2 separate regions of the Homo sapiens genome follow, and region 1 is linked to region 2. Evidence: fine-mapped expression QTL. A gene starts in region 2. The other region holds a variant in brackets. All regions are shown on one strand. Distances are from middle to middle. Region 1 has its middle 22 kb from the start of MRPS23. Region 2 holds the start of MRPS23 (mitochondrial ribosomal protein S23).

Region 1 (4,387 bases), 22 kb after region 2:
AACTCCGCCTCCTGGGTTCAAGTGATTCTCTAGTCTCAGCCTCCCCAGTAGTTGGGATTACAGGTGCCTGCCACCACGCCTGGCTAATTTTTGTATTTTTAGTAGAGATGGGGTTTCACCATGTTGGTCAGGCTGGTCTTGAACTCCAGACCTCAGGTGATCCGCCAGCCTCGGTCTCCCAAAGTGCTGGGATTACAGGCATGAGCCACTGCCCTCGGCCTTTTTTTTTTTTTTTTGAGATGGAGTCTTGCTCTGTAGCCCAGGCTGGAGTGCAGTGGCGTGATTTTGGCTCACTGCAACCTCCGCCTCCTGGGTTCAAGTGATTCTCCTGCCTCAGCCTCCTGAGTAGCTGGGACTACAGGCATGTGCCACCACACCCAGATAATTTTTGTATTTTTAGTAGAGACGGGGTTTCACCATGTTGGCCAGGCTGGTCTCGAACTCCTGACCTCAAGTGATCCACCGTCCTCGGCCTCCAAAAGTGCTGGGATTACAGGCATAAGCCACTGCGCCTGGCCATAGACTGGCTTCTTAAAAGAACCAGTTTAAACACCTGTAAGTCTAAGAAGGTCAAATTTAGGAAAATCTCATCTGCAGGACTGAGGTCCCCTGAGCCACTGGCCACTTGTAATTAATATTAATGAGCTCTAGATGACAGATGTTTATTGCTCGACTGACACATGCTTTGCCAACCCCCAAAGGAGTGGCTGTAAGATCTAAAGGACTTGAATATACTTTAATTTTATGTTGAAGAGAATAAAACTTTCCGGGTATAGTCAGGGGTTTTTTACGATGAGAACCCATCGACCCATAGGCAATGTCTGCCTTAAGAAAAAAAGAACTGAGTGTACCCCGGTTCTTTATTGACATTTAAAAATAGCTCCTTTTGTCCAAAAATGAGGCAGACATGAGACAGTAGATAGGACACTGGGTAAGGCTCCTGGAGACCCCAGCCTGGCCCCAGCTCATCCATTTGTTGGCTGTATGACTTTGGTAAGTCTTCAAACCTTTTTAGCCATTTGTAAGATGAGGGGGTTGAGCTACAAGATCCCTGAAGTCCTGTTCTTTGGGTCCATGGGTCCAAGCGGAGCTCCAAGAAGAGCAGAATCAGCATCTTCCAAGATTTATTAAATACTTCTTTAAAATCTTTTCAGGCTGGGCACAGTGGCTCATGCCTGTAATCCCAACACTTAGGGATACCAAGGTAGGCAGATCACTTGAGGCCAGGTGTTCGGAACTAGCCTGGGCATTATAGTGAGACCCCCATCTCTACAAAAAATTTTTTAAAAATTAGCCAGGTATGCGTGGTAGTGTGTGCCTGTAGTCCCAGCTACTCCAGAGGCTGAAGTGGGAGGATCCCCTGAGCCCAGGAGTTCGAGGTTTCACTGAAACCTCGATTTATGATCATGCCACCGCACCCCAGGCTGACTGACAGAGCGAGACCCTGTCTCAAACACAACAAAACAAAACAAAACAAACCCACATTTTAAATTTGATTATGGAAGCATTCATAAAAGTAGAGAGAATTGGCTGGGTGTAGTGGCTCATGCCTGTAATCCCAGCATTTTGGGAGGCCGAGGCAGGTGGACTGCCTGAGCTCAGGAGTTGGAAACCAGCCTGGGCAATATGGTGAAACCCTGTCTCTACTAAAATACAAAAAGTTAGCCAGCCATGGCAGCGTGCACCTGTAATCCCAGCTACTCGGGAGGCTGAGACAGGAGAATTGCTTGAACCTGGGAGGTGGAGGTTGCAGTGAGCCGAGATCGCGCCTCTGCACTCCAGCCTGGGCGACAGAGCAAGACTCCATCTCAAAAAAAAAAAAAAAAAAAAAGAATCATATAAAGATCCTCCATATGTTTATCATGTAGACTAAACCATTATTAATATTTTGCTGTTTTTGCTCATCTATATTTTTTCTGAAGTGTTTTTTTTTGTTTTGTTTTTTGTTTGTTTTTTTGAGGCAGGGTTTTGCTCTGTCACTCAGGTGGGAGGGCAAGTGGTGCAATCATGGCTCATTGCAGCCTCAACCTCCTGGGCTCAAGGGATCTGCCCGCCTCATTTTCTGAGTTTTTGTAGAGACAGGATCTCACCATGTTGTTCAGGCCGGTCTCGAACTCCTGGGCTTAAGCAATCCCTCCACTTTGGCCTCCCAAAGTGCTGGGATTACAGGCATGAGCGACAGCTTCCAGCTTTTCTGAGGCATTTTAAAGCAAGTTCCCACAAAACCTCTCTCACCCAAGGCTTCAGCCTGCTTCTCTGGAAAATAAGACCCTTTCTTATATCAATACAATACCATTATCAAACCCAACAACATGGCATTTAACAGCCAGTTTTTGAAGATTTCCTCGTACTCAGTCCATTTTCAAATTTCCCCACAATTTTCTGAACAGGCTCTCCACCCCTCCGACCCCAGGCCTGTTCTTGGGGCCAACTAGTTTTAACCATTTCTGTTTTTAGTGCGTCTGGTGGGTACCTTTACATCTCTAAATAATCAGCTTGCTTTTTTTTTTTTTTTTTTTGAGACAGAGTTTCACTCTTGTTGCCCAGGCTGGAGTGCAACGGCGGGATCCCTGCTCA[T/C]CGAAACCTCCGCCTCTTGGGTTCAAGCGATTCTCCTGCCTCAGCCTCTTGAGCATCTGGGATTACAGGCATGTGCCACCAGGCCCGGCTAATTTTGTATATTTAGCAGAGACAGGGTTTCTCCATGTTGGTCAGGCTGGTCTCTAACTCCCATCCTCAGGTGATCCGCCCGCCTCGGCCTCCCAAAGTGCTGGAGTACAGGTGTGAGCCACGGTGCCTAGCTGGCTCCCGCCTTTGTAAGATGAAGGTAAGAGCCAATGGTTTCAACAGACAGCTGGATGGACTCAGGGTCCAAGAAGTCTGAGTGATCATGAGAAGAACTAAACAGAGGGTGAATGCTTTCAGATCCCAGGACTGTAGGATATCTTTATGGCTTGTCTGCAGCTATGGGTCCCAGGCCCCTGAGCAGGAATCTGAAGGAGGGTCCTTCCCAGAGTTAAGGCTGTGTCAGTCCCCAGGCTACTGTGGTCAAGTCGGCCTGCTTCCCTCTTGCTCATGAAGGTCTGTTCTCTCTGGAAATGTCCCAGAAGCTGGCAATAAAGACAGTTCCCTTTATAGAGCAGCTGCTTCTTTTTTAAAATTTAATTATTTTTAATTTTTTCTTTTGGAAACAGGGTCTCGCTATGTCACCCAGGCTGGAGTGCAGTGGCATGATCAAAGCTCACGGTAGCCTCTACTTCCCAGGCTCAAGCGATCCTCCTGCCTCAGCCTCCTGAATAGCTGGGACTACAGGTGTATGAGACCCTGTCTCATTTTTCAATTTTTTTGTACAGATGGGGTCTTTCTTTGTTGCCCAGCCTGGTCTTGAACTCCTGGGGTCAAGCGATCCTCCTTCCTGACCTCCCAAAGTGCTGGGATTACAGGTGTGAGCCACCTCGCCCAGCTGAGCTGCTGCTTCTGAAGCCTGCTTTGACATTAAGCTGTTACAATGCATTGAGGGATGCTAGGAAATGGTTGTATGAGGCATACTTTTGTTTTTTTCTGTGGGAATGTTACTGACCATTTTTTCCTCTATGAAGACCCGTGGGATAAATATCTTTCACGTTTTAGCTTAAGGAATAAAAAACTGTGCTGCTTTTGAACAACTTGGGTGGTTTGCTTCTGCGGTCTTGGCAAATTTGGTGTCTTAGTTTCCCTCTTAGCTTTGGCTGTGGGGAAATTCAGAGCTTAATTTACAGTTACATGCAGCTCTGGAGTAGGAGATGGCATTATTTTTGATTATTATGAAATATTTCAGGCATTCAAAAATTACAGAGACTCTACAACAAATATCTACTTACCCATCACCCAGGTTAAGACATGAGCTTCTTGTATCCATTCCTGATCCCTTTCTTCTTTGTCCCTACTCTCGTGGTGGATATTTTCCTGGACTTGGTGTTTATCTTCCCTACTTAAAAAATAATAATTTTTTCTACAAACGTATGTATCTATAATAAACATACAGTATTGTTTTACACATTTAAAAATATTATAAAAGTGGCTTTATACTGCATGTATCCCTCTGTAATTTGATCTTTTTACTCAAGAGTTTTCTTTTGAAACTCACCTGTTTTGCCACATGTAACTCTAGTTAATTCATTTTCACTGCTGTACAATATTCTATTCTAAGACTAGATGTATGAATATGTAGGCTTTAAGAGTATGGCTCTGGGGCCAGGCTGCCTTGGTTCAAACCCCAACCCTGCCACTTACTAGTTCTGTGACCTTGGGCAAGTGACTTAACCTCCTCTTCTCGTCTCTGTTTCTTCATCTGTAAAATGGGGCTAATGATACCACCTATCTAATAGAGGCGAAAATAAATGACTTAATA
Region 2 (4,387 bases):
CTGAGGGCTGGGATACTAGAGCCTTTACACCTGGCCTGGGGCCAGAGCTGTGCTCTCTCTTCTCTGTTCCAGAGGGTCTGGAGGCAGCAGTGAAATCCACCTCAGGTTAGCCCTGGGCCTCAAATCACTGGATCCCTGGCGTGCGTGTGTGTGTGTGTGTGTGTGTGTGTGTGTGTGTGTGTTGTGGGGGGGGCGGGTGGGGAGCGGCGTTCTGCTGGACTCTTGAGCCTACCAGCCTCGAGCTTTAGGCATAGCTTAGGCGGCATTGTGAGGCACTGGAAAGGGCCCTGGCTGCCCCACCCCCCCAAGGCTGGCTCTATCAGTTGCTTATCAGACAAGTTATGTAACTTCCTGAGGCCTTGCTTTCTCATCTATAATGAGGATGTTAATAGCTACCTTATGGGAAGGTATGTGGATTCAGTAAGATAACACACACAAGCAGTAACTACTCATCAAACAGTCCCGTCCTCCCCTTCACCAGCCTCAGAGTGGGAGGACTCTAGGATGACTTGACTAGGCTCCCAGGAGACATTGTGTGTGATTCAAAACATTCATTGGATTAAAAGTTCAAATATGAATACAATCTCTTTACAAGTCAAACTCTGAAGCATGTGTAAAGGAAGAAAAAATTCTCCCTTGCCTGCCTGCAGTTTCACTCCGAGATATCCAATGTTCACAGCCTTGGGTGTCCTTCTGCAGAATTTCTATCCTCAAACACAAACATATATAGAGGTGTTTCTTTTTCCTTTTTTTTTTCTAACACGTTGAGATTCCACTAAACATGTTTCTTTGCAACTTCGTTTTTCATTTAAACATAAGTCATGTACCTTAACCTTGGTAAATACATGTGGATCTAGCTCATTCATTTTAATAGCTGCATAGGGTTCCAAAGAAAGTATGAACAATAATTTTCCAGCTATTTCTCATCTGATGGATTTTTTTTCCCACTACAAACAATGCTGCAACGATGATCCTTGCACAAACATCCTCATGAATTGATGCTTTAATTTCTAAGGGGTTCTTTCCCCGAAATATGATTACTGGGTCAAAGGGTATGCTACACACAGTTTATATTTTTTTACAGTTTAACACTGAGAGATGACTTTCTCCAGATTTTTTCGTTTCCCTCTCGGCGTCTGTTTGTTCCGGACACTTTCACTTTTCGAGTTCCAAGGAGGAGGTAGCCCGCGACACCGGCCGCGGGAAACACGAGTTGCAGCCAGCATCCTAGTTAGCGTGGATGCAGGTGGCACTCCGGGGACGAGGGGCTTAGTGGGGAGCACTACACAGCCAGAGGCGGAGGCCCGAGATCTAGCACGACGCTGGGCAAGTGACGGCCCCTCCCCGGCCTTGGTTTTCTTCTGCGTAGTCTGTGACTCTAAACAACATTAGGCTCAGCCTGGGCCTAGAGCTGGTGACCTCAAATCTCGGCCTTTGTTGGCTCCCCTAGGACTGTAGGCTGCGCTTCACCCCTGCTCTGCCCCACTACTTCTCCTCCGCGCGGCCCCACCTTTTCAGAGGAGTTGGCTCAACAAGGCGAGAGAGAGTAAAGCAACCATCATGATGAATCCCTCCCACAGCTCGGTCATTTATTACTTCTGTCCGGCTTTGGCTCGCTCCTGCCCTTTTGGCTCGGCTATCGAGTGCTCCTGCCTGAACCTGGCAAGTAACCTCGGAGCGCGCCCGTTCGGCCTATCACTTGCTTCTGCCTGCGCCGCTCTCCCGCAGGGGCTGCGGTGAAAGCCCAGCGATCCTTGGCTCGGCCAGCAACTTATGCGCCCTTTACCTGGAGCAGCCGCTTCCGGTTCCGGTAGCAGCTAGTCACGCTCGGTACCAGGCGCAGATCATGGCAGGCAGCCGGCTGGAAACCGTAGGGAGCATCTTCTCTCGGTGTGTGCTCCCAGCCGTGGTGGGCTGAGGGTGCCTCCCCCAGGCTGGGGTTCTCAGCCGGTCACGCTCTTCCTTGGAGCGGACCTGAGCAGGGCGAGGCGTATTGCAGGGTGCGGGGGCTGAGCTGGGTGAGGCCCTCTCATGTTTTCTCCTGGCTCCGAATAGTTGTGCCTGAGGATGCCTCTCCTTGAATTTATGTGTCATGTTAAAGATTATTGCAGCTGCCTCTCCCCGAGTGGAGGTCTCTAGGAAGAGGAAGGGAGGAAGAGCCTGATGGGCCTTCCTTATCAGGTCATGCAAGACCGCTCTTTGCATTTTTCCGTGACCGAACGTGGGTGGGACGCACAAAAGAAGATAGAGGGATTTAACTCTCCTGAGCGTTGTTAAGTTTGGTTTGGGATGTGGACAGATCTTCTCTGTAGGTGGGGAGCAGTCCTTCCCCGTTCTGTGTTGCAGACCGCATAATACCTTTAATGTCCCAAACTGTGCTAGACTGATTCAGGGGCTTTGGCAGGCTACTGCAAGTGACCCAGTTTCGTTCTGTTCCCTCCCTAAGGACTCGGGACCTGGTTCGGGCCGGGGTGCTGAAGGAGAAGCCCCTGTGGTTTGACGTATATGACGCCTTTCCCCCGCTGAGGGAGCCCGTCTTCCAAAGGCCTCGAGTGCGATATGGCAAAGCCAAAGCTCCCATCCAAGACATCTGGTACCACGAGGATCGGATTAGAGCGTGAGTGCTCAGCCCTGTAGTGGACAGGAGGCAACAGAACTTCAGAAGGGAAGGTTTCGGTAGCAGTCTGGGAATTCAAACATGAAATTGAGTCAGGGGTTTGCCCTGTGGAGAAGGCTTATCTAGCCAAATTAGGGAGGCAGCACCCCTTCCTCATAGTGAAACTGAAGTTCTGAAAAGTGGAATCTGGAGCCCAGCAACCGAAAGATCATTGCAATTATAGCCGCATGTTTCTGGGCATCTGCTTTGGGCCAGGCACTGTACTAAGCTCTTTGCAAGCATTATCTCATTCTCTAAAGGCCTTACTCTAACTTGTAAGGAAGGCATTCTTGTTTCCATTTTATTCAAGGAGACTGCGAAGCTCAAGGAAATTAGCTAACTTCTTGTAATTACTAAATATATAGGAGGGTGGCAGATCTGGGAATCACATCTCTGACTCCAAGCTTATGGTGATCATTATGCCGGCCTTCTCCACGAGTGGAGATAGGAGGAACGTGGTCTGTGGATCTAGTAGTCCGGCTCTTTGAAGCCACTCAGATGAAAGGATGCTTGAAAGTCTAAGAGAGGCCGGGTGCGGTGGCTCACGCCTGTAATCCCAACACTTTGGGAGGCCAAGGCGGGCGGATCACCTGAAGTCAGGAGTTCGAGACCAGTCAGACCAACATGGTGAAACCCCGTCTCTACTAAAAATACAAAAATTAGCCGGGCATGGTGGTGGGTGCTTGTAGTCCCAGCTACTCGGAAGGCTGAGACAGGAGAATTGCTTGAACCTGGGAGGTGGAGGTTGCAGTGAGCCGAGATCCCACCACTGCACTCCAGCCTGGGCGACAGAGAGAGACAATCACTAGGAATTTGAAGGAAAATCATGTGTTCTTTATTTTTTTTTAGCATCCCTTTTCTCTTTTTTTTTCTTTTTCTTAAGCTCAGTGGCAAGAATACTTCCTCTTTTATTATAAAAGCAACACATGCTACTTGTAGAAAATTTAGATACACAAAGAAAGCATAAAAAGAAATCACAGGCTGGATGTGGTGGCTTGTGCCTGTAATCCTAGTGCTTTGGGAGGCATAAGGGAGGATAGCTTGTGCCCAGGAGTTTGAGACCACCCTGGGCAACATAGCAGGACTTGTCTCTACCAAAAAAAAAGTAGTTGTCTTAGTTTACACTCTGATTAGCAGTTTCTGAGAGTTCTTACTTTATCCTTGTCAGTATTGATAATGATTATTTAAGAATTTTTTTTTTCTGGGCCAGGCACGGTGGCCCACGCCTGTAATCCTGGCACTTTGGGAGGCTGAGGTGGGCAGATTGCCTGAGCTCAGGAGTTCGAGACCACCTTGGGCAATATGGTGAAACCCTGTCTTGACTAAAATACCAAAAATTAGCCGGGCTTGGTGGTGGGCACCTGTAGTCCCAGCTACTTTGGATGCTGAGGTGGGAGAATCGCTTGAAACTAGAAGGTGGAGGTTGCAGTGAGCTGAGAGTGCACCACTGCACTCCAGCCTGGGCAACAGAGGGAGACCCTGTCTCCAAAAAAAAAAAAAGTTTTGTTTTTTTCTGATCTAAGTATTTTTTTTTTTTTCGAGATGGAGTCTCACTCTGTCTCCCAGGCTGGAGTGCAGTGGCGCAATCTCGGCTCACTGCAAACTCTGCCTTCCGGGTTCATGCCATTCTCCTGCCTCAGCCTCCTGAGTAGCTGGGACTACAGGCGCCCACCACCACAGCTGGCTAATTTTTTGTATTTTTAGTAGAGACAGGGTTTCACCGTGTTAGCC

The links. PIP is the estimated chance that this variant, and not a neighbour inherited with it, causes the effect. A credible set is the group of variants that fine-mapping cannot tell apart.
Region 1: its variant is the best candidate, but not a certain one, in a credible set for the expression of MRPS23 in whole blood (TOPMed, PIP 0.55).

The regions. Positions count from the first base shown.
Region 1 is chr17:57,825,959-57,830,345 of GRCh38, reverse strand. No RefSeq gene overlaps it. Among named protein-coding and RNA genes, the nearest start is that of MRPS23, 22 kb to the left of the region's middle. The variant T/C (reference allele first, on the strand shown) is at 2,578.
Region 2 is chr17:57,847,470-57,851,856 of GRCh38, reverse strand. It overlaps MRPS23 (mitochondrial ribosomal protein S23), which reads left to right and starts at 1,813. Exons shown (of 5, transcript NM_016070.4): 1 at 1,813-1,890; 2 at 2,447-2,617. The coding sequence starts at 1,847. RefSeq lists enhancers at 1,318-1,827, 1,503-1,832.